7 linked regions of the Homo sapiens genome follow. The protein of the gene in region 1 purifies or fractionates together with the protein of each later gene. This does not show direct contact. Each region holds a gene or a part of one and is shown in the gene's direction. Other genes may lie near its edges. The genes, in order: NXPH3, DNAJC3, GUSB, CRELD2, CNTNAP1, MAN2B2 and WDR73.

What was found.
Region 2: the proteins of NXPH3 (region 1) and DNAJC3 purify together in Homo sapiens (co-immunoprecipitation; one large-scale study listed by IntAct). This does not show direct contact.
Region 3: the proteins of NXPH3 (region 1) and GUSB purify together in Homo sapiens (affinity purification with mass spectrometry; one large-scale study listed by BioGRID and IntAct). This does not show direct contact.
Region 4: the proteins of NXPH3 (region 1) and CRELD2 purify together in Homo sapiens (co-immunoprecipitation; one large-scale study listed by IntAct). This does not show direct contact.
Region 5: the proteins of NXPH3 (region 1) and CNTNAP1 purify together in Homo sapiens (affinity purification with mass spectrometry; one large-scale study listed by BioGRID and IntAct). This does not show direct contact.
Region 6: the proteins of NXPH3 (region 1) and MAN2B2 purify together in Homo sapiens (affinity purification with mass spectrometry; one large-scale study listed by BioGRID and IntAct). This does not show direct contact.
Region 7: the proteins of NXPH3 (region 1) and WDR73 purify together in Homo sapiens (co-immunoprecipitation; one large-scale study listed by IntAct). This does not show direct contact.

Annotation. Positions count from the first base shown.
Region 1 is NC_000017.11:49,578,871-49,581,598, forward strand, and holds part of NXPH3 (neurexophilin-3 precursor), read left to right. Parts: coding exon 1-430; 3' UTR 431-2,728. UniProt on the Homo sapiens protein: May be signaling molecules that resemble neuropeptides. Ligand for alpha-neurexins.
Region 2 is NC_000013.11:95,680,139-95,683,638, forward strand, and holds part of DNAJC3 (dnaJ homolog subfamily C member 3 precursor), read left to right. Parts: intron 1-3,500. UniProt on the Homo sapiens protein: Involved in the unfolded protein response (UPR) during endoplasmic reticulum (ER) stress.
Region 3 is NC_000007.14:65,960,184-65,962,698, reverse strand, and holds the end of GUSB (beta-glucuronidase isoform 1 precursor), read left to right. Parts: intron 1-1,635; coding exon 1,636-1,802; 3' UTR 1,803-2,015; downstream 2,016-2,515. UniProt on the Homo sapiens protein: Plays an important role in the degradation of dermatan and keratan sulfates.
Region 4 is NC_000022.11:49,924,836-49,928,037, forward strand, and holds the end of CRELD2 (protein disulfide isomerase CRELD2 isoform b precursor), read left to right. Parts: intron 1-581; coding exon 582-722; coding exon of another isoform or gene 723-835; exon of another isoform or gene 836-1,733; intron 1,734-2,419; coding exon 2,420-2,472; 3' UTR 2,473-2,702; downstream 2,703-3,202. UniProt on the Homo sapiens protein: Protein disulfide isomerase. Might play a role in the unfolded protein response. May regulate transport of alpha4-beta2 neuronal acetylcholine receptor.
Region 5 is NC_000017.11:42,696,031-42,699,530, forward strand, and holds part of CNTNAP1 (contactin-associated protein 1 precursor), read left to right. Parts: coding exon 1-122; intron 123-1,243; coding exon 1,244-1,337; intron 1,338-1,523; coding exon 1,524-1,769; intron 1,770-1,872; coding exon 1,873-1,920; intron 1,921-2,587; coding exon 2,588-2,880; 3' UTR 2,881-3,500. UniProt on the Homo sapiens protein: Required, with CNTNAP2, for radial and longitudinal organization of myelinated axons. Plays a role in the formation of functional distinct domains critical for saltatory conduction of nerve impulses in myelinated nerve fibers.
Region 6 is NC_000004.12:6,581,689-6,585,188, forward strand, and holds part of MAN2B2 (epididymis-specific alpha-mannosidase isoform 1 precursor), read left to right. Parts: intron 1-3,500.
Region 7 is NC_000015.10:84,641,535-84,644,283, reverse strand, and holds part of WDR73 (integrator complex assembly factor WDR73), read left to right. Parts: intron 1-560; coding exon 561-814; 3' UTR 815-2,749. UniProt on the Homo sapiens protein: Component of a multiprotein complex required for the assembly of the RNA endonuclease module of the integrator complex. Associates with INTS9 and INTS11 in the cytoplasm, stabilizing the INTS9-INTS11 heterodimer and blocking the active site of INTS11.

The DNA of each region.
Region 1 (2,728 bases):
GACGGTGGCCCTGAACCTGCTCGTCACAGGGAAGATTGTGGACCATGGCAATGGGACCTTCAGCGTCCACTTCCAACACAATGCCACAGGCCAGGGAAACATCTCCATCAGCCTCGTGCCCCCCAGTAAAGCTGTAGAGTTCCACCAGGAACAGCAGATCTTCATCGAAGCCAAGGCCTCCAAAATCTTCAACTGCCGGATGGAGTGGGAGAAGGTAGAACGGGGCCGCCGGACCTCGCTTTGCACCCACGACCCAGCCAAGATCTGCTCCCGAGACCACGCTCAGAGCTCAGCCACCTGGAGCTGCTCCCAGCCCTTCAAAGTCGTCTGTGTCTACATCGCCTTCTACAGCACGGACTATCGGCTGGTCCAGAAGGTGTGCCCAGATTACAACTACCATAGTGATACCCCCTACTACCCATCTGGGTGACCCGGGGCAGGCCACAGAGGCCAGGCCAGGGCTGGAAGGACAGGCCTGCCCATGCAGGAGACCATCTGGACACCGGGCAGGGAAGGGGTTGGGCCTCAGGCAGGGAGGGGGGTGGAGACGAGGAGATGCCAAGTGGGGCCAGGGCCAAGTCTCAAGTGGCAGAGAAAGGGTCCCAAGTGCTGGTCCCAACCTGAAGCTGTGGAGTGACTAGATCACAGGAGCACTGGAGGAGGAGTGGGCTCTCTGTGCAGCCTCACAGGGCTTTGCCACGGAGCCACAGAGAGATGCTGGGTCCCCGAGGCCTGTGGGCAGGCCGATCAGTGTGGCCCCAGATCAAGTCATGGGAGGAAGCTAAGCCCTTGGTTCTTGCCATCCTGAGGAAAGATAGCAACAGGGAGGGGGAGATTTCATCAGTGTGGACAGCCTGTCAACTTAGGATGGATGGCTGAGAGGGCTTCCTAGGAGCCAGTCAGCAGGGTGGGGTGGGGCCAGAGGAGCTCTCCAGCCCTGCCTAGTGGGCGCCCTCAGCCCCTTGTCGTGTGCTGAGCATGGCATGAGGCTGAAGTGGCAACCCTGGGGTCTTTGATGTCTTGACAGATTGACCATCTGTCTCCAGCCAGGCCACCCCTTTCCAAAATTCCCTCTTCTGCCAGTACTCCCCCTGTACCACCCATTGCTGATGGCACACCCATCCTTAAGCTAAGACAGGACGATTGTGGTCCTCCCACACTAAGGCCACAGCCCATCCGCGTGCTGTGTGTCCCTCTTCCACCCCAACCCCTGCTGGCTCCTCTGGGAGCATCCATGTCCCGGAGAGGGGTCCCTCAACAGTCAGCCTCACCTGTCAGACCGGGGTTCTCCCGGATCTGGATGGCGCCGCCCTCTCAGCAGCGGGCACGGGTGGGGCGGGGCCGGGCCGCAGAGCATGTGCTGGATCTGTTCTGTGTGTCTGTCTGTGGGTGGGGGGAGGGGAGGGAAGTCTTGTGAAACCGCTGATTGCTGACTTTTGTGTGAAGAATCGTGTTCTTGGAGCAGGAAATAAAGCTTGCCCCGGGGCACTGGAGTCAGAGTTGTCCAAGGAAAGGGCCTCAGGCATCCCTTGGTCCAGGAAGAATTTCTCTGATGGCCGCAGGACATTTGCTTGAGACCCAAGTGGCAGGGATCCAACCGCCCTTGGCGCTGATGTTTGCTGAGGGCTCAGGGCTTCCCTCTCCAGCCCCGGTTCCAAGCTGTCTGATCCCCCACGAGGAAACTTGAGCAAACACCCTGGGCTCGGTGCTGGAGGAGGGCGTAGCATCTTCAAGAACAGCTCAGGGAGGGAGAGCTAGCAGGTAGAATGGGCCAATGAGGGTGTTCCTTGGTGTCCTCCCTGAACTGCCATCTGCAGACCCAGCAGGGTCCTAGCCCCGTCATTTTGCTGCGTGGCCTTGGCCATGTCCATTCTCCTCTCTGGCTTTCTTTCTTTGTTTCTTCCTCTATGACATGAAGGGCTTGCCCAGACCAGGGGTTCTCAAACGCGGATCACCCAGAGGGTTTGTTAACACACAGATTTCTGGGTCCTACCCACATTTCTAATTCAGCAGGCCTGGGTGGGGCCTAAGAATTAGAATTTCTAACGAGTGCCCAGGTCTATGCTGATGCTGCTGCTCCAGGGCCCATGCTGGGAGACCCACTCAAAGGACCTTGAAGTTCATCTCTGGCTATGGCTCCGCAGGAGGGGGAGACACCTCGGATGTGATTTCCCAGCTGTAATTTCCATCTGCTTCTCCTGGGGAAGGGGCCTTTCAGAGAATCGGGGCTATTGTATTGGATTTTCAATCTGACCACATGCCAGTGAAGGAACAGGCTGGAGTGGGGTGTGGACACAGGGCCTGCGTCAGTCACTCCCCTCCTGCAGCTAGTAAGAGGCCTCAGAATGGCCAGCTGCCAGTGGCACCTTGTCTGGGAGTTAGTTGGGCCCTTTGGGACTCTGTGAAGGGAAGACACTACCAAGGTCACAGTGCCTTCTGGAGGTCATTCTAAGTCGGCTCTCTTGGGAGGGCAGCACTCAGGGCCCTTTGGGCCCTCTTGAGGAGAGGAGAGTCCTGGCAGTAAGGTAAGATGGGCTTGCCACCCCCCACCTTTCGCCCCTGCCCACCAGCGCTCCGCGCAAACTGGTCCCCTCATACTGCAGCGCAGAGTTGGGTGGGGCTGAGAAGCCATCTGGTTACAGCCCACCTTGTAGGAAATGACCCAGCTTGTTTCCCCCACATCATGCTTCCAGGGGCCGTCTCTCCTGAGTGGAGATGTGAGACACAC
Region 2 (3,500 bases), on another chromosome or scaffold:
TAAGGAAGTTATTTCATTTCTTTGCTAATGGTTTGTCCTCTTGGTGACTTGAGTAGCAACACAGCCTGGGAACGAAACCTTTTTTCTCTTATCATAGTTTTATCTCTTTTTCTTCCTTAACATGCTATCTGGACCCAATTTTTCTTTATTTCATTGAGCTGATTAAACCATATATTTTGGCCATGGGGAAAAGAATAGTTGAAAATATATAGTTGAAAATCTATACGTATAAAATATTGTGATAAGTTTTATTTGAACCATGATAAGTTTTATTTGAACCTAACCTATTAAAGGTATGTTTTGTCTTTTCTAGGATTTTCTTGACATTATCTAAATAGGGAAAGAATAAAGTAGCAAAAATGAGTGACTTTAAGTAATTTAAATAAATTAAGTATCATAAAAGGTGGTCACATATTTTCTAGAATTATTTTAAATTCTTTAATAAGATAGGCTGTAGTTAGCAGTAGTATCAAAGTTCCAGTTCTCTTGACATAGTTAGTATTTGCTGAGAAACTGCCTGGAAATGCAGTGGTTTTCATTCTGTGAGGTAGGGGAAGTTGTTCTGGGAGGGGATGCACTGTAGTAATTAGGTTTTATTTTCCCATATGAAGTTAATTAATTGTTGTTAAGTTTAATTTCTACTGCTGTGGTCTCTTTTGATTAGTGTCCTGCAGTTAATCTTTGTTTATATGGAAGTATCATGGGAACCCATTCACCTGCTCTTCAGAACGCAAACATTTCAACCATAGATTTATTTTTCTTTCCATATCTTTAGAAAGCTACTTAAAAAAATTAAATCTGATGAGTTTGTATCATTTGGAGTTCTGGAATATGGAGAAGACTCATTTAATCAGTCAGCAAAGGCTTTTACTAACTATATTGCTCTTTGGTGAGGTATATATACGTAGCATAGAACTCATGGCTTTTGCTTTTGAGTTTACAGACCACTTAGGGTTTAAGACATGCATTTGTGAAGCATTCACGTCCTCTTTTTCTCCTTTCCCGCTTTAGACTGAGTGGTCCATTATTGTAGTTAGTGTACTGCAAATGCCCATTTATTTTCTGGCCCCTGTAATCTTCTGTTTTACTCACCTGCCAAAACCCAACACTGGTTAAATTCAACTTGGCCAACTGTTTTTATACCTTATAGGTAAACACGGACGGAGGAAAATGGAGACAACTTTGCTGATTAGTCTCATTTATCTTTATTTTTATTTTCAATTTTTTTTCGAGACAAGGTCTTGCCCTGTCACCCAGGCTGGAGTGCAGTGGCATGATCCTAGCTCAATGTAGGCTTGACCTCCTGGGCTCAAGCAGTCCTCCCATCTCAGCCTCCTGAATAGCTGGGACCACAGGTATGCACCACTGCATCCCCTACTAAGTTTTTAAAATTTTTTGTAGGGACAGGGTCTTCTATGTTGCCCAGGCTGGTCTTGAACTCCTGGGCTCAAGCAATCCTCATCCCTTGGCCTCCCAAAGTGTTGAGATTACAGGCACGAGCCAATGCACCTGGCCCTGATTAGTCTCATTTTAAAGAAACAATCTCAGTCGCAAATGCACATTAAATACTGCTAACACTCCCACAATTCTTTACTATGTCTATTCTTGAAAATCAATATTTCAAACATTTTCCTCCTTTCTGAAGCCTCTAATTTAAACTCTCCTTTCCTCTCTCCCCTACCTCATTCTTTTAGACCTTGTCTTTACTGAGAAAATGAAAGCCATCACAAGGCAAGTTCTTCTTTCTACCTCAAAATTCACTAGCTTATCTACATTTGTACCTATTCTGCTACTTTTTCTCATATTGAAATACATTAAATGTCTCTATTCCCAGATAAATCTAATCTGTGTACTTACACCCTGGATTCCATTTCCTCTCACCTTCTGAAAATGTTGCTCCTACAGTTGTATCTTTGTGCTGCTATAACAAAATACCACAGACTGAGTAATTTATAAAAAAAATTTCAACCTGAATTTTGGAGAGAACATTCAGATAATAGTAGATGCTGAACTTCCTGTACTATCTTTCTTTGGCTAGATTCCACTGTCTTCTGTGTTTCTGCTACAAGACTTCTTTTAGACTCTACCCCACCTTGCTAGAGTCTTGGCTTAGCCTTCTGTTCTTTTTTAGAGAAGAAACTTAGGGCTTTCCTCATTCCTCATATTCTAAGTGCTCCAACCTGAATAACCATCTCTCTCTCTGGGATTGCTCTCTGGTCTGGGTCTGCCACCGCCTTTGCTTGAACTTTAGTATCTTTGACTATGAGTTCTTGCCTCCTTTAGTCTGGTTCTTCCAGTCTTGATTGTAACTCACGTCATACCTTTAACCCCCCACCTTTAAGTTTAAAAAAATCCTTATTTTCTGCTCTCCAAAATATAAGATATTCTAATACTAATTTCAGTGAAAGACATAGTTGGCTACTCTACCTTTTTCCCTGCCCTTGCTGCTTATTTTGCTGACTTATGATCACTGCTTGTCTAAGGAGAAACCTATTGTCTAATGCTGATTAGGAAATGGCATGATGTTTGGTTGTCTTACCTCTCTGAAAATAATGTTTACAGACCATGTGGCAAAGGAATAAAAATTACCTGTGGCTCAAAAGAGAGTGGATTGCAAAAACAGCCAATAATTCGCAAATAATTTGATTTTTCAGATGTGTCTTTATGAATCATTGATCATATGTTTGACTTGATAATTGTTATGTATTTTAGATTTTATTCTGATGAATTATAATACGTTTAAGTAAAAAGGCAAATAGTTAAATTCATTCAACAAATATTGCATACCCACTATGTGCGGGATACTGAATTAGGTGATACAAAGAAGAAAAGACAGCTCCTCCTCTCAAACTTGCTTTTGATAAGTTTTGTGGAGTTGGGACTTTGAGAAGCAGGCAAATTGTGAAAAGCAATATATAGAGAGAGTGATATTGCAAAGTGAAGTCATGTACTTCTGAGTGTGGAAATGCAAAATATAGGAAGATTGAAGGAGCTTTTTTTCCCTCTCTCAAAACAATACAGTGTGAGGGAAGGTTTCACAAAGGAGCCAGCATTTGAGGGCAGAATCTTTTTTTTTGTTTAACTTTATTTTATTTTAGATTCAAGATATACATGTGCAGGTTACATGGGTATATTGTGTAATGGTGGGGTGGTATGATTTAGATCTGTGCCCCACCCAAATCTCATGTTCAGCTGTAATCCCCAGTGTTGGATCTGGGGCCTGGTGGGAAGTGATTGGATCATGGGGGTGGTTTCTAATGGTTTAGCACCATCCCCCAGAGCTGTTATTGTGATAGAATTCTCACAAGATCTGGTTGTTTAAAAGTGTGCAGTATCTCCCCCCTCTCTGTCTTCCTCCGGCTCTGGCCATGTGAAGATGTGCCTACTTCTCCTTTACCTTTTGCCATGATTGTAAATTTCCTGAGGCCTCCCCAGCCATGCTTCATGTACAACCTACAGAACCGTCAGCCAATTAAACCTCTTTTCTTTATAAATTACCC
Region 3 (2,515 bases), on another chromosome or scaffold:
GTTTCTCCATGTTGGTCAGGCTGGGCTTGAACTACCGACCTCAGGTGATCCGCACATCTGGGCCTCCCAAAGTGCTGGGATTACAGGCATGAGCCACCATGGCCAGCTGAAACTCGGTCTTAAAAAGAAAAAAGAAATGAGCTGCATCACGTTGGGCAAGTCACCTAAGCTTTTCATAAGCCTGTCCAGTGGGGATAATGCCACCTCCTTGTTGGTGTCGTAAGGGCTGCATTTGATGAAGTACTTGGCGATGCCTGTGTTCACTTATGGAAGAAACAGTCTTGAACCTTTTGGTGGGGAAAGCCCCCTTTCCATTTAACATTTCCATTTAGTGGTGGTCTTACTGGGGACAGAGAATGTCCTGAGAGCACAGCCCTGACAGGTCGTTGCCAGCTGTGCTCCTCCACCAGGCTCAGCTCAGGCCTAATGACCACCAGTGGTGGGTGCTGCCAAGCTGGACGTCAGCCCCGGCGGACTTTGAACTCCATGAGTAGGTCCCACGCAGGGACCTGTGGCTGGTCAGGACCCTGGCTCCCACTAGGCGCTATCTCTTCAGAAAGGCCCAAGGCTTTTCAAGGGTAACTGTCCCAGATACCCCTAGCCCTCTGCCTACCCAGTTACCAGACAGCTGGGTACCCAGCATGTAAACCTTAGTTTGCAAATAAAAGATAAACTTTTAGTGCTTTTTTTTTTTTTGGAGATGGAGTCTCACTCTGTCGCCCAGGCTGGAGTGCAGTGGCACAATCTCAGCTCACTGCAACCTCTGCGTCCTGGGTTCAAGCGATTCTCCTGCCCCAGCCTCCTGAGTAGCTGGGACCACAGGCACCCACCACCATGCCTGTATAATTTTTGTATTTTTAGTAGAGATGAGGTTTCACCATATTGTCCAGGCTGGTCTTAATCTCCTGACCTTGTGATCCGCCTGCTTTGTCCTCCCAGAGTGCTGGGATTACAGGCATGAGCCAATGTGCCCAGCCAGTTTTTGTATTTTTAATAGAGGCGGGTTTCCTCATGTTGGCCAGGCTGATCTTGAACTCCTGACCTCAGGTGATCCACCTGCCTCAGCCTCCCAAAGCACTGGGATTACAGGCGTTGGCCACCACACCTGGCCACTGTTTTGGGTTTTTTTCCCCTAACAGACTAGAAAACTAGAAATTAACACACCAGGGAACCTGGGTGTTTGGGCAGAGCAGTGGTATTTAAATATTTCAACCCATAAATTGTCACTTCAGAGCAAGCATCCTGAAACTGTAAGAGGACATTTGGCTGAGCATGGTGGCTTGTGCTTATAATCCCAGCACTTTAGGGAGGCTAAGGAGGGCAGATTGCTTGAGCCCAGTAGTTTGAGACCAGCCTGGACAACATAATGAGACCTTGTCTTTACTAAAAAATAAAAATAAAAGATTACCGGGCATGGTGGTGCTGGAGAGGCTGAGGCAGGAGGATTGCCTGAGCCCAGGAGGTTGAGGCTGCAGTGAGCTATGATTGTGTCACCGCATTCCAGCCTGGGCAACAGGGAGAAAAAAGAAAAAAAAAGACATTTCTATTTAGTGCCTACCTTAGCTCCAGACTGGTTCTAACTTGACCCATCAGAAGACATCTGAATCGCTTTGTGTCTTTTTTTTTTTTTTGTAGCACCGACGAGAGTGCTGGGGAATAAAAAGGGGATCTTCACTCGGCAGAGACAACCAAAAAGTGCAGCGTTCCTTTTGCGAGAGAGATACTGGAAGATTGCCAATGAAACCAGGTATCCCCACTCAGTAGCCAAGTCACAATGTTTGGAAAACAGCCTGTTTACTTGAGCAAGACTGATACCACCTGCGTGTCCCTTCCTCCCCGAGTCAGGGCGACTTCCACAGCAGCAGAACAAGTGCCTCCTGGACTGTTCACGGCAGACCAGAACGTTTCTGGCCTGGGTTTTGTGGTCATCTATTCTAGCAGGGAACACTAAAGGTGGAAATAAAAGATTTTCTATTATGGAAATAAAGAGTTGGCATGAAAGTGGCTACTGAAAAGCATCTGAAATCATTTCTGTGCGTCGTGCTGTTTTCAGAGCTTTAACTGTGTGTGGACTTTTGAGAAACTGCTGCTCCAACACCCCCACCACGTTCAGAGCAGCTGGTTCCCGAGGGCGTCTGCAGGAATAGCCCCATGGTCCTAGGGCCACCGTGTTTGTGTAGCAAACCAGGCCAGCCTCGACAGGGAGTGAGTAGAAGACTTTCACAGCTGCTGTTCGACTCCTCAGATGAGCTAAAGTCCCACATGTACCAACAAATTCATAGAAACGCTGTCATTGTTGCAGCACTTAACAGGGTCTGTGTGCCAGTTTCTACATAGTTAAGCTGGCAGTGTCTGAATTGGAAGGTTAGAGGTAACTGGTTCTCCCAGAACATTGTTTTGACCTCAGCCATAGGGTCTTGACAGAAATGGACAGATGAGTGTAAAAGCCTATTGGCTTTATCATAACGGATGCCACTGAATGTGACAGGACCTCCTTAAACAACTTTGCCTACAA
Region 4 (3,202 bases), on another chromosome or scaffold:
GAAAGTGGGTTTCCTGGGCAGGCGCCATGGTTCATGCCTGTAATCCAGCACTTTGGGAGGCTGAGGCGGGGGGATCACGAGGTCAGGAGATCGAGACCATCCTGGCTAACACGGTGAAACCCCATCTCTACTAAAAATACAAAAAATTAGTCGGGCGTGGTGGCGGGCGCCTGTAGTCCCAGCTACTCGGGGGGCTGAGGCAGCAGAATGGCGTGAACCCGGGAGGCGGAGCTTGCAGTGAGAGGAGATCGCGCCACCGCACTCCAGCCTGGGCGACAGAGCGAGACTCCGCCTCAAAAAAAAAAAAAAAAGGAAAAGAAAGTGGGCTTCCTGGGCGCATGCTGGCCTTCCGGCCCCACCTGGAGGTCTCTTCTCTGCATTTTCTACCAGTTGAGGGCCCAACTTGGAGACGTGAAATTCTTCCCTCTCGAAGCCTTTCCTGATCTTTGCTCCTTTCTGTAACGTGACGTTTGTCATCGTTGTGCTTTCTTTATGTGAATGAATCTGAATGAATGAATTTCATAATCCGCTGCGCGTCTGCTGAGCAAAGTAATTATTAAAACGGAGTCTTTTCATTTTAGATGTGGACGAGTGCTCACTAGCAGAAAAAACCTGTGTGAGGAAAAACGAAAACTGCTACAATACTCCAGGGAGCTACGTCTGTGTGTGTCCTGACGGCTTCGAAGAAACGGAAGATGCCTGTGTGCCGCCGGCAGAGGCTGGTGAGTGGCACGGCTGCCCTCCACACAGGCTGCCCTCCCCTGGGCCGCAGGGCTTGCACGTAGACTGGCTGCTTGGTCTGAAATCCACACAGATGGTGGCCTTGAGATGGTGAGAGGGGGATTCCCGGAAGACAGGTGCATGACATCTCTGTGTGGGCACGCTTGCGCGAGAGGTACTGGCTTCCTGAGGATGAAGCCCCAGGTTCACAGCTCAAACGGAAGTTCAGGCGATGAAGGGGGAAGTCTCTGAAGCTCAGACCTCAGCGGGCGATGAGCAGAGGAGCAGACGCAGGAGAAGAGGCAGCTAAAGAGCTGGAAAAGTCATCCGGGGAAGCTGCCCAGGGTGCCGCAGAGACAGGGACAGGCAGGAAGTGGTGGAGGGCAAGCGGGTCCCCCACACCTGTTTCCTGGGGCTACCTTACCAAGAACCAGGAACTTAGGGCTCCAGCAACAGAAATGTGCCGCTCACAGGAGCCAGAAGTCAGAGGCCCAGACGCAAGCAGGCTGCTTCCTTGGGAGGCTGGGTGGGCGCGTCTGTTCCGGGCCTCTGTCCTCGCCTGGGGATGCCACCTGCTCCCCGTGTCTTCACGTGGTCTCCATGCGGGTGTCTGTCTCTGTCCAAACCTCCCCTCTTTGTAAGGACACCAGTCACTAATGCCCTCATGTTAACCTGGCCAGTGGTAAAGACCCTATTTCCAAACAAGGTCACAATCACAGGTACTGGGAGTAAAGACTTCAGCGTGTTTTGGGGGACATAAATCTGCCCGTGACAGTCCTCACAGAAGTCTAGAATATAGAGAGTGGGAAAGAAGCAGTGTTCAAGGAGATATTGGCTAAGGGTTTTTCAGAATGAATAAGGCACGATTCAGATTCCAGAAGCTGTTTCCTGAGCAGGACAAATAAAAGCAATTCCACATCTAGAAGCATCGTAGTAAACAGCAACAGCAAGACAGAACTGAGGGGTTAGCAGAGACGGACAGGCCAGAAGACAAGGCTGCCTGCTACCCCCTCGGTCCCCTCTGCCCTGGGCTGGCCCTGCCTCTTGCCCCTCCCTCCCCCCACCCTCGGTCCCCTCTTGCCCCTCCCTCCCACCACCCTGGGTCCCCTCTTGCCCCTCCCTCCCCCCACCCCGGGTCCCCTCTTGCCCCTCCCTCCCCCCCTCTTGCCCCTCCCTCCCCCCACCCCGGGTCCCCTCTTGCCCCTCCCTCCCCCCACCCCGGGTCCCCTCTTGCCCCTCCCTCCCCCCACCCCGGGTCCCCTCTTGCCCCTCCCTCCCCCCCGTCCCCTCATTCTCCTCCCTCCCCCCCACCCTCGGTCCCCTCTTGCCCCTCCCTCCCCGTACCACCCTCAGTCCCCTCTTTCTCCTACCTCCCCCACCCTCGGTCCCCTCTTTCTCCTCCCGCCACAACCATTGTTCAGGCTCCCATTCTGCCAGGCCGCAAGGAACCCCTTGCCGCTCCCAACTCTGCATCCTCCACACCCACGGCAGCGTGGGGGCTCTGAAATGCCGTCTGCCTCATCTCTCATCTGCTTTGTGGGAAACGGGGGTCTCCGAGCTGCCCTTGGATGGCTGCGTCCGGGGCTTTGAGCCAGGACTGGACGGGCAGGCCCTGCACATGCGCTGCTGTCCTGGGAAAGGCCTCATCCCCAGGGCCCTTTGTGCTCAGCCTTGACGACCTATGCTTGTTTTCTGACAGAAGCCACAGAAGGAGAAAGCCCGACACAGCTGCCCTCCCGCGAAGACCTGTAATGTGCCGGACTTACCCTTTAAATTATTCAGAAGGATGTCCCGTGGAAAATGTGGCCCTGAGGATGCCGTCTCCTGCAGTGGACAGCGGCGGGGAGAGGCTGCCTGCTCTCTAACGGTTGATTCTCATTTGTCCCTTAAACAGCTGCATTTCTTGGTTGTTCTTAAACAGACTTGTATATTTTGATACAGTTCTTTGTAATAAAATTGACCATTGTAGGTAATCAGGAGGAGAACGGGCGTGGGTTTGTCTCATTAATCAGGACGGACCTTTACCACTGAGTTTGCACCTGTCCTGCCAGAGCCGGGAGTGACCAGGGCTGCCGAGGTCCGCAGAGGCAGCAGGTCCGGTCCTGGGCTGGTGGCTCTGCTGTCCCTGAACAGGGCTCACGTGCCGCTTGGGGGAGGAGGGGAGGGCCCTGCCTTGGGCGAGAACCTGAAGACGTGACCAGGTGGGTTTCAGGGGTCCAACCTATGGGCCCTCTTCAGTGATTCAAAGGATGTACAAGCAGGGACCCTCAGGCAGGGGAAAAGCATCTTTGGGGGCTTCGCTGGAGGAAACAGCCACTCACAAACCGCAGGGCCTGCCCGTTCCTCATCTGGGAATGAAGACACTGCAAGAAGAAAGCTGGCTGCGGGTGAGAGGCTGCAGGCTCTGGGAGCTCCGTTCCGGGGGGCCATGGCCTCCTCCCTGGGCTCCTCATAGCCCCCAAGTCCCACTTGGCCTGGTCCC
Region 5 (3,500 bases), 6.9 Mb from region 1:
TTCAGCTGCGATATCAGCTGGGCACCAGTCCCTACGTGTACCAGCTAACCACTCGACCAGTGACCGATGGCCAGCCCCATAGCATCAATATCACCCGTGTTTACCGGAACCTCTTCATCCAGGTATGCATAGAGGGAGGTGAGCCAGTTCAGATCATAACCTCATGGTCTCCGTTGTGGCATCCAGGAAAACATCAAATACTTAATATTTGTAGATCACATTTGAATGTATAGAGGATTTTCACGTGTGTCACCTCATGTAACCCTCACAATAGCTCCAAGGGGACAATAGGCATTTTTTTTTTTTTTTTGAGATGGAATTTTGCTCTTGTTGCCCAGGCTGGAGTGCAATGGTGTGATCTCAGCTCACTGCAACCTCTGCCTCCCGGGTTCAAGCAATTCTTCTGCCTCAGCCTCCCGAGCAGCTGAGATTACAGGCATGCGCCACAACGCCCAGCTAATTTTGTATTTTTAGTAGAGACAGGAGTTCTCCATGTTGGTCAGGCTGGTCTCGAACACCCGACCTCAGATGATCCGCCTACCTCAGCCTCCCAAAGTGCTGGGATTATAAGCGTGAGCCACCGCGCCCAGCCAGACAATAGGCATTCTTATTTAAGTGTTTTACAAATCAGTAAAGAGCCTCAGAAAGTAAAGCGGTTTCAGCTACTCAGGAGGGTGAGGCAGGAAAATTGCTTGAACCTGGGAGGTGGAGGTTGCAGTGAGCTGAGATCGTGCCACTGCACTCCAGGCCTAGGCGACAGAGTGAGACTCCATCTCAAAAAAATAAAGTGGTTTACCCAAAGTCAAACCGCTGGTAAGCTGCAAAGATGGGGCTTAAAACCAGGGTTTTAAAAAATATATAGGCCAGGTGCAGCGGCTCACACCTGTAATCCCAACACTTTGGGAGGCTGAAGTGGGAGGACTGCTTGAGGCCAGGAGTTTGAGACCAACCTGAGCAACATAGCAAGACCTCATCTTCACAAAGAAAAATATTTAATAAATAAAATAAAATAATAATAATAAAAATATATATACCAAATCCTACATCTAGGCCCAGGGGTTGCCCACTTCAGATTGAGCTAGGACTCACCCAGCTGGCACCGCCAGTTTGGACAGAATGAGAGATCTCCAGTATCTGCCCCCAAGTATATTCCCAGGGTCCACACAGTTCCAGTCCAGCCCACAGGCATCTGCTTCTGGTCCCCGCTCCCTCATCGCCCTCCCCCTCCCCCTCCCCACCTCAGGTGGACTACTTCCCACTGACAGAGCAGAAGTTCTCGCTGTTGGTGGACAGCCAGTTGGACTCACCCAAGGCCTTGTATTTAGGGCGTGTGATGGGTAAGCTGCGGGTGCGGACGCGTTTTAGGCAAGGAGCTGTGGCATATGTTCCTGGATCCTCAAGGAAAGTGAAGGCCCTGGGAATGGCTGAGGGCAGTGGGAAGGATGAGTGGGAAACCTGTGGACAGTGAGAGTGGCAGGGCCTTTGGGTCCAAGTCCCTCTTTCTGGGCCTGCCTCTCTCTCAGAGACAGGAGTCATTGACCCGGAGATCCAGCGCTACAACACCCCAGGTTTCTCAGGCTGCCTGTCTGGTGTTCGATTCAACAACGTGGCTCCCCTCAAGACCCACTTCCGAACCCCTCGACCCATGACTGCTGAGCTAGCTGAGGCCCTTCGAGTTCAGGGAGAACTGTCCGAATCTAATTGCGGAGCTATGCCACGTCTTGTTTCAGAGGTGCCACCTGAGCTTGATCCCTGGTATCTGCCCCCAGGTACATTCCCAGGACACAGAGGACAGAAGGGAGGGATGACACGGAAGGGAATGATTCTTAACATGGAGGAGGCATCTCCTAACTGGTGCTTTCTCCTCTCCAGACTTCCCCTACTACCATGATGAAGGATGGGTTGCCATACTTTTAGGCTGTGAGTAGCACTGATCACTAAGCTGACCTCCCAAGACTACCCTCTGACTGTCAGCATCCTTTCCCTGCCCCTGATCCCCAAGGCTGCAGGATGGCAAAGGCACTAGATGCACAATGGCACAAAGGATGATGAGACAGGCTATGCTGAAGGTGCCATATAACTGGGCAGAGATTTTTAGATGTTTGAGGATGAGACAGGCTATGCTGAAGGTGACATATAACTGGGCAGAGATTTTTAGATGTTTGAGGATGCTACAGATTTTTAAATAAAATATTAAAATGAGACTATAGCTAAGGGATGGGAAAATGGGGATACAGTAACACCTAGAGAGATAAGAAATTGGGGTAACTACCAGGGATGTGGAAAGAGAATATTAGAAACAGAAGGTGGCAGGGGGTAAGCCAGGAATTCAAACCTGCCAGACACTTGAGATGAGTTTAGTGTGGTCGAACAGCTAACTGAGGGTCATACATTATGCTTTTGGCCAAAAGTAAATGTGTGTGTGTGTGTGTGTGTGTGTGTGTGTGTGTGCAGGTGAAATCCCAAAGTGTGTGTATGTATACAGGTGAAATCTCAAAGAGTGCGTGTGTGTGTGTGTGTGTGTGTGTGTGTGTGTGTATACAGGTGAGATCCCAAAGATCTGAATTGTCCCTTTTCTTCTTTTCAGTTTTGGTGGCCTTTCTGCTGCTGGGGCTGGTGGGAATGTTGGTGCTCTTCTATCTGCAAAATCATCGCTATAAGGGCTCCTACCATACCAATGAGCCCAAGGCTGCCCACGAGTACCATCCTGGCAGCAAACCTCCCCTACCCACTTCAGGCCCTGCCCAGGTCCCCACCCCTACAGCAGCTCCCAACCAAGCTCCAGCCTCAGCCCCAGCCCCAGCCCCAACTCCAGCCCCAGCCCCTGGCCCCCGGGATCAGAACCTACCCCAGATCCTGGAGGAGTCCAGGTCTGAATGAGTCAGAAGGGCTTCTGGGACCAATTCCAGCTCCTGACATTCCCCCAGTCCTGCCTCTCCCCCATCCTATCAGGGACATTTGGCTCCTCTTAGCTGGCTCTGCTCATCCAGAGGATATTCCCCCATCCCCCCCCCATCAAGTTTGGTGGGCAGAGCTACAGATGGGACCCAAGGGAGTGGCCGAGCCTCACTGCCTAAACCAATGCCCTTCTCATCCCTGTTTCCCCAGGCTCCTGGCTGTTTATCTGCCCCAAAGGAGAAGCCTCATGGGGTTGACATAGGTCCTTTCTGCCATCTCTGTTCCAGCTGCTGTCAGGGATTAACAACAGAGTGTAGGGGAGATTAACTGCCTCCCTTCCAATAGACACTATCAGCAGGGACAGATGTGTGGGAGTGCAGGGCTGCAGAGGGTATGGGGGGAGGAGGCTGCTAAACCCTATCCCCCAGCCTCCCCCCTGCCCTGAAGATCTTCCATTTGCTTCCACTCAGCTGGAGGCTCAAGAGGGCTTGATGGCTGTCCCCTGCCCCCCTCCTTTTGTTTTGTACACAGAGACCAAGAGGCCTCAGTTTAGCACCTTAGTACCTCCGCTGCTTCACTTGCTTTAGCCAAAGCCATAAAAA
Region 6 (3,500 bases), on another chromosome or scaffold:
GGCTGGTGCAGCCTCTAGACCTCTGACCTTCTTCTTCGGGTATCTAGGGTGCCAAAGCATCTCCTCAACCAAGACCCACTCCTGGCTGCCCGCCAGGGCCTGGGGCACTGGGCCTGCCCGTAAGCTCACCTTTCCAGCCTTTACCTCCCCAACTCCTGCTCCCGGCAGTCACGCCAACACCACCTTAATTTTAGATGTGACATTTCTAGTGAGGGGAAAAGCATTTGTTCCCAGCACTGCAGTGTCAGGGAAAGGCTGGGTGTGGGCAGCGGCCCCCGGGGGTAAGAGCTTTCATGCCCCTCCCTGAGGGGACACTTTCCCAGCTGGGATGTTTAGCGGAGGCCCAGCAGAGTGGCAGGTGCCAGAGGGAAAGAACCCCTCACCCCTATCCTGAGGGGAGAGAGCCCAGCTCCCGCCTCAGAGGTGCTGAGAGGCAAAGGGTCCAGGTGAGAGTCAAGGAGACACCTTGGGCCATCCTGGATGACCACTGCTGTCCTGGCCATTCAAACCCAAGCTCTCAGCCCTGTCCCCCAACCCCACTCCCTTCCCACTGAATCCGCGATCCCTCTCCTGTGTCACAGACTCTCTTCCACCTTCTCTTGTCTCTCTGACTCCTTCCAGCAGTATTTAGTTGTTGTTGTTGCCGTTGCTGCTGTTGTTGTTGTTGTTAGACAGAGCCTCACTCTGTCACTCAGGCTGGAGTGCAGTGGCGCAATCTCGGCTCACTGCAATCTCTACCTCGCAGGTTCAAGCAATTCTTATGCCTCAGCATCCTGAGTAGCTGGGAGTACAGGCGTGCACCACCATGCCCAGCTAATTTTCATATTTTTAGTAAAGACAGGGATCTCACCATGTTGGCCAGGCTGGTCTTGAACTCCTGACCTCAAGTGATCCGCCCACCTTGGCCTCCCAAAATGCTGGGATTACAGACCTGAGCCACCAAGCCCGGCCCCCAGCAGTATTGAAAACACACTTAAATTGTCTCTCTTCAAAAAAAAATTTTTTTTAACATGGGGTCCACTGTGTTGCCCAGGCTGGTCTTGAACTCCTGACCTCAACATCATAAAGCAAGACCCTCCAGCTCAGGCTGTAATGGCATTTATTCCCACCACCCCCTCACCCCCCACCACCTCCCACTACTTCACCCTCAGCCCCTGCATCCTGGCCTCTGCCCTGCATGTGCTAGTGAGCTTGCTTGTGGCCTGGTCATTATACTGGTGAGGATACTGGTTCAGCAGCTTGAACAGAGACCAAGTGACTCCAACAAGAAGGAAGGTGTGTTTCTCTCCTGTGGAAGTCTGCAGTGCAGGCCACTCTGGTGATTGGGTGGCTCTGCTCCATGGAGTGACCCAGGGATCCACGTTGCTTCCATCTTGATGTTCAGCCATCCCCCACAGTGTTGCCTGCCTGAGTTGCAGTCTAGACTGGCTCACCCCACTGAGTTGTCCTTCCAGCAGCTAGGGGATAGGGAATGGTGGAGCCAGGGCAGGCAGCTTCCTTGTAAAAGGCGACCTAGAACCTGCCCACATCACTCCTCACATTTCCATTGGCCAGAACTTAATCATATGGCCTCCCTCAACTGCAGGGACTGCTGGGGAATAGAGTCTATTTTGCTCCCAGTCCATTGGCCAGAGTGGTGTCATGTGACCTCTACCAGTTGCAAAGGAGGCTGGGGAATGTAGTCTCTGGCTGGGAGTCCATTTGCCCTGCTAAAACCAAGAAGGAGTGTGTGGTTCTGTTACTAAAAGGAAGAAGGACAGAATGTATATCGGACGCCAATTAACAGTTTTGGTCATGAATCACCCTGAAGTCTCAGGAATGCTTTCTGCTGGACGGCCAGAAAACCTAAGTAAAGCTGTTAGTGGTGGAAGGTATCCAAGTTACCAGCAGCTAATCCGTACGGGTCTGCAGCAACCCCAGTTCTTGCCTCCTCGGAAGAAAGAATTCGACTGAGGGGCATAAGGCAGAAAAAGAGACTGAGGCATGTTTCAGAGCAGAAGTGGAAGTTTATTTAAAAAGGCTTTAAAATGAGAAAGAAAGGAAAATATGCTTGAAAGAGTCCCAAGTGGGCACGTGAAGGTCAAGTGCTGTATTGATCCTTGATCCTAGGACTTTATAGGCTGGTCCCCTTTCCCATGATTCTTCCCTTAGGCTGGGCTACCCGCACTCACAGTGCCCTCCTTACCCTTGGGAGGTGAGCACACGCACTGTGTTTAGGAAGTTGCACACATGCCCATCTGACGCTTTCTTCCCTTTTCCAGTGGAGTGTCCCTGGAAGGTCAAACTCCGCCATTTTGTCTCTTAATGCACCTGCTCGGGAAGTCACGTCTCCCTGGCACCTGCATTCAATTAACATGTTAGTGCAACAGGTGTGGACCATCAGGAAATGCCCTCTCCCTAGTGCTGGCTGCCAATTTCTCACTTCTAGAGAGGCAATGTGATAATTGCCAAACCATCACCCAACATTCCTAGTGGGTGGGGGAAGAGCCCTCCCCTGCCCCACTCATGCTTGTCTAACTACCTGTAACAAAGCGACTTGAGTCTTAAGAACATTTACTTAACAAGATGGGGATAGTTTGGGACTGGTTCTGCAGTACCTTGATATCTGTGATTCTCATGTCCTTACCCTTGTGGTCACGATATGGCTGCCATAGCTCCAGCCATCATGTTACCAGACACCACATTCAAGGCAGTAAAAGGAAGAGAGGGGGCTTTCTATACCCATAGTCTATTCTGTTGGATAAACTTAGACACACTAAAATGTTAGCATTTATTTGAACAAACAGTGATTCCTGAATCAGGAAGTACTAGACTGTGAGCAGTTCATGGCTCCACTAAGGGAATATGAGAGGGAAACGTCTATAAGGTGCTCCTGAAAGCAAGACAAAGAAAACATTTGCCTACAGTGAACAGTCCCTAGTTAGAGGTTGGTTGGCAGTTTCCGATGGGTCAAGCTTAAGTTCTCTTTTCCTGTTTCCACCAAGTTAGATTTGGGTTTGCTGACAGAGGAACTCGAGGCCTGGAGCCGGCTCAGCCTGATGGCCTCCCAGTTCATTACTTAACAATGCCCCTCCAGCTGCCAGACAGAGAGAACCAATATCTGACAGGAGGGAGTAAGCGTGCCACATTTGGCTTAGATCAACTGTGATTCGTCCCTTGAGGCTGGGCATGGTGCACCCTGAACAGAGGGAAGGTTCTGCGAGTGAAAAAGGGGTGCTGACTTGGCAGCCTTCAGCCTGCCCCCACCGGCTGCCCTGTCTGGTGCGAGGCCGTACCCTCCAGAGCTCCTGGCTCCTCTCAGTGCGGTGCTGTTGCCCACTCCCTCCTTCATCCTGCAGCTGGCACTCCCCCTGTGCTCCCCCCACCCTCTGGCTGCTCCTTCTCCATCCTCTCTGCTTACATATGCACAGCCTCCACCCACACTCCTAGTCCACGCTCCCCCTGATCCCCTCTCACCTCTGCTGTGCACCTGATGCCAGCCCCACTCCTCACCTCCCACA
Region 7 (2,749 bases), on another chromosome or scaffold:
CAAAGGCTTCTGTTTCCCCCATCGAGTAGGAGACAAGGCCATCTGCTGAAAGGGACCCAGAGGTAGGGGACTGGACTCTGGGGCAACTTGAAAAGGTTTGAAGAAGTCTCTTAAGCCTCAGTTTCCTGGGTAAAATAACAGTATCTGTGTCATACAGTTCTGAGGATTAAAAGAGCTAATACTTGTCCAGAATTAGCCTTCGAGCCTCACGCATAACAGGTGCACAACGGATGCTCATGGTTACATGCCCCACGGAGTCATCAGCTGCCAACACTGAGGGCAGATGCTACTTGCCCGTGGTTAGCCTTTTAAGTGCCTTGATTCCTCATCCAATAGCCTGTTTTGGTACCATAGAACAAATTATAAAAAGTATTTTAGGGGCTGGGTGCCTGTAATCCCAGCATTTTGGGAGGCTGAGATGGGAGGATCGCTTGAGGCTAGGAGTTCAAGACCATCCTGGTCAACATGGTGAAACCCCATCTCTATTAAAAATAGAAAGAAAATTATTTTAAAATAAAATTAGGGACTCATTGTCAAGCCTCTCTTTTCTGTATTCTCAGGTTTTGATGGTACAGTCCAGGTCTATGATGCCACATCTTGGGATGGAACACGGAGCCAAGATGGAACACGGAGCCAAGTAGAACCTCTCTTCACTCACAGAGGTCACATCTTCCTAGATGGAAATGGGATGGACCCTGCTCCTTTGGTCACCACCCACACCTGGCATCCCTGCAGACCAAGGACTTTGTTATCAGCAACAAATGATGCCTCTCTGCATGTGTGGGACTGGGTGGACCTTTGTGCCCCCCGCTGACACCAGCATCTTTCCATCTAGGCCTCTAGAAAGGGGAGGAGCTGCTGTAGTAGCAAGGGTGCTCATGTAGGACTCAAGTGACTACCAGTCCCTGTTACCAGCTGTGTGGCCTTGGGCAAGTCTGCCAGCGTCACTTAGCCTCAGTTTCCTTATCTGTAAAATGAGGATAGTAAGAACTACCTCGTAGTGATATTGCGAAGGTTAGAAGAAACGCATGGCATAATTACTTGGTAGCTATTGTTAGATCTGGGAGTGTGAAATGGTAGCGTTTTGTCCCTGTCTTCACACTATCATAGGGAGAATCAAAAGAGCTAACAAATATAAACATGCTTTGTGAATTTTTTTAAAGAAAAAAATGTAGAGGGGCCAATAAACATGAAAAAATCCCAGCCCTAGTAGCAATTAAGGAAATAGCAAAACAGGATTTCTGCTCCTCTTGAGTGGGTCTCATGGGAACACAGGTGCACTTTCCCACACTTGTCCCCCCAGGTGACTAGGTTCAAGAGACATTTGCTTTTGGTGGCCCCACAAACATTTCCTTTTGAGGGCCCATAGTGAATATTAAAGTGTGCTGGACATGGTGGCTCATGCCTGTAATCCCAGCACTTTCAGAGGCTGAGGTGGGCAGATTGCTTGAGCTGAGGAGTTTGAGACCAGCCTGGGCAACATAGCAAGATCCCTTCCCTTAAAAAAAAAAAAAAATTTGGCTGGGCATGGTGGCTCATGCCTGTAATCCCAGCAATGTAGGCAGCCAAGACAGGTGGATCACTTGAGTCCAGGAGTTCGAGACTAGCCTGAGCAACATGGCGAAACCTTGTCTCTACTAAAAATACAAGTTAGCTGGTTGTGGTGGTATGAGCCTGCAGTCCCAGCTATTCAAGAGGCTGAGGTGGGAGGGTTGCCTGAGCCTGGCAGTTGAAGTTTGCAGTGAGCTGTGATCATGCCACTGTATTCCAGCCTGGGCAACAGAATGAGACCCTGTTACACACACACACACAAAATAGATAAGTTGTTCACTCTGTCAGCATCTATTAGCCCTTCCCATGTGCAACACTAATTACATGCTAGAAATACATAAATGAGAGGCTTCCTAAGGTGGTTGAATTTTTTTTTTTTTTTTTTTTGTAGTAGAGATGGAGTCTTGCTCTGTCACCCAGGCTTGAGTGCAGTGGCGTGATCTCGGCTCACTGCAACCTCCACCTCATGGGTTCAAGCAATGCTCCTGCCTCAGCCTGCCAAGTAGCTGGGATTACAGGCACGTACCACCATGCCCAGGTAATTTTTGTATTTTTGGTACAGACGGAGTTTCACCATGTTGGCCAGAATGGTCTTGATCTCTTGACCTTGTGATCTACCCACCTCGGCCTCCCGAAGAGCTGGGATTACAGGTGTGAGCCACCGCGCCCGGCCAGGGGATTTCTCCTGTGTGAATTCGCTGGTTAAGTGATAATTAACTGCAGTTAAAATTCAGGTCAAGCATGTGGCTCATGTCTGTAATCCCAGTACTTTGGGAGGCTGAGGTGGGAGGATAGCTTGAGTCCAGGAGGAGTTCGAGATCAGCCTGGGCACCATGGTGAACCCCTGTCTCTAAAAAAAAAGAAAGATTTTTATTTAAAAAACCTAAACAAATTCAGATAGGAATTTAAAGATAGACCAGGCACAGTGGCTCACGCCTGTAATCCCAGCACTTTGTGGGGGGCCAAGGTGGGTGGATCACTTGAGGTCAGGAGTTCAAGACCAGCCTGGCCAACATGGTGAAACCCCGTCTCTACTAAAAATATAAAAATTAGAGACGGGCATGGTGGTGGCACACCTGTAATCCCCACTACTCAGGAGGGTGAGGCAGGAGAATTGCTTGAACCTGAGAGGTAGAGGCTGCAGTGAACCGAGATTGTGCCACTGCATTCCAGCCTGGGTGACAGGGTGAGACTCCAT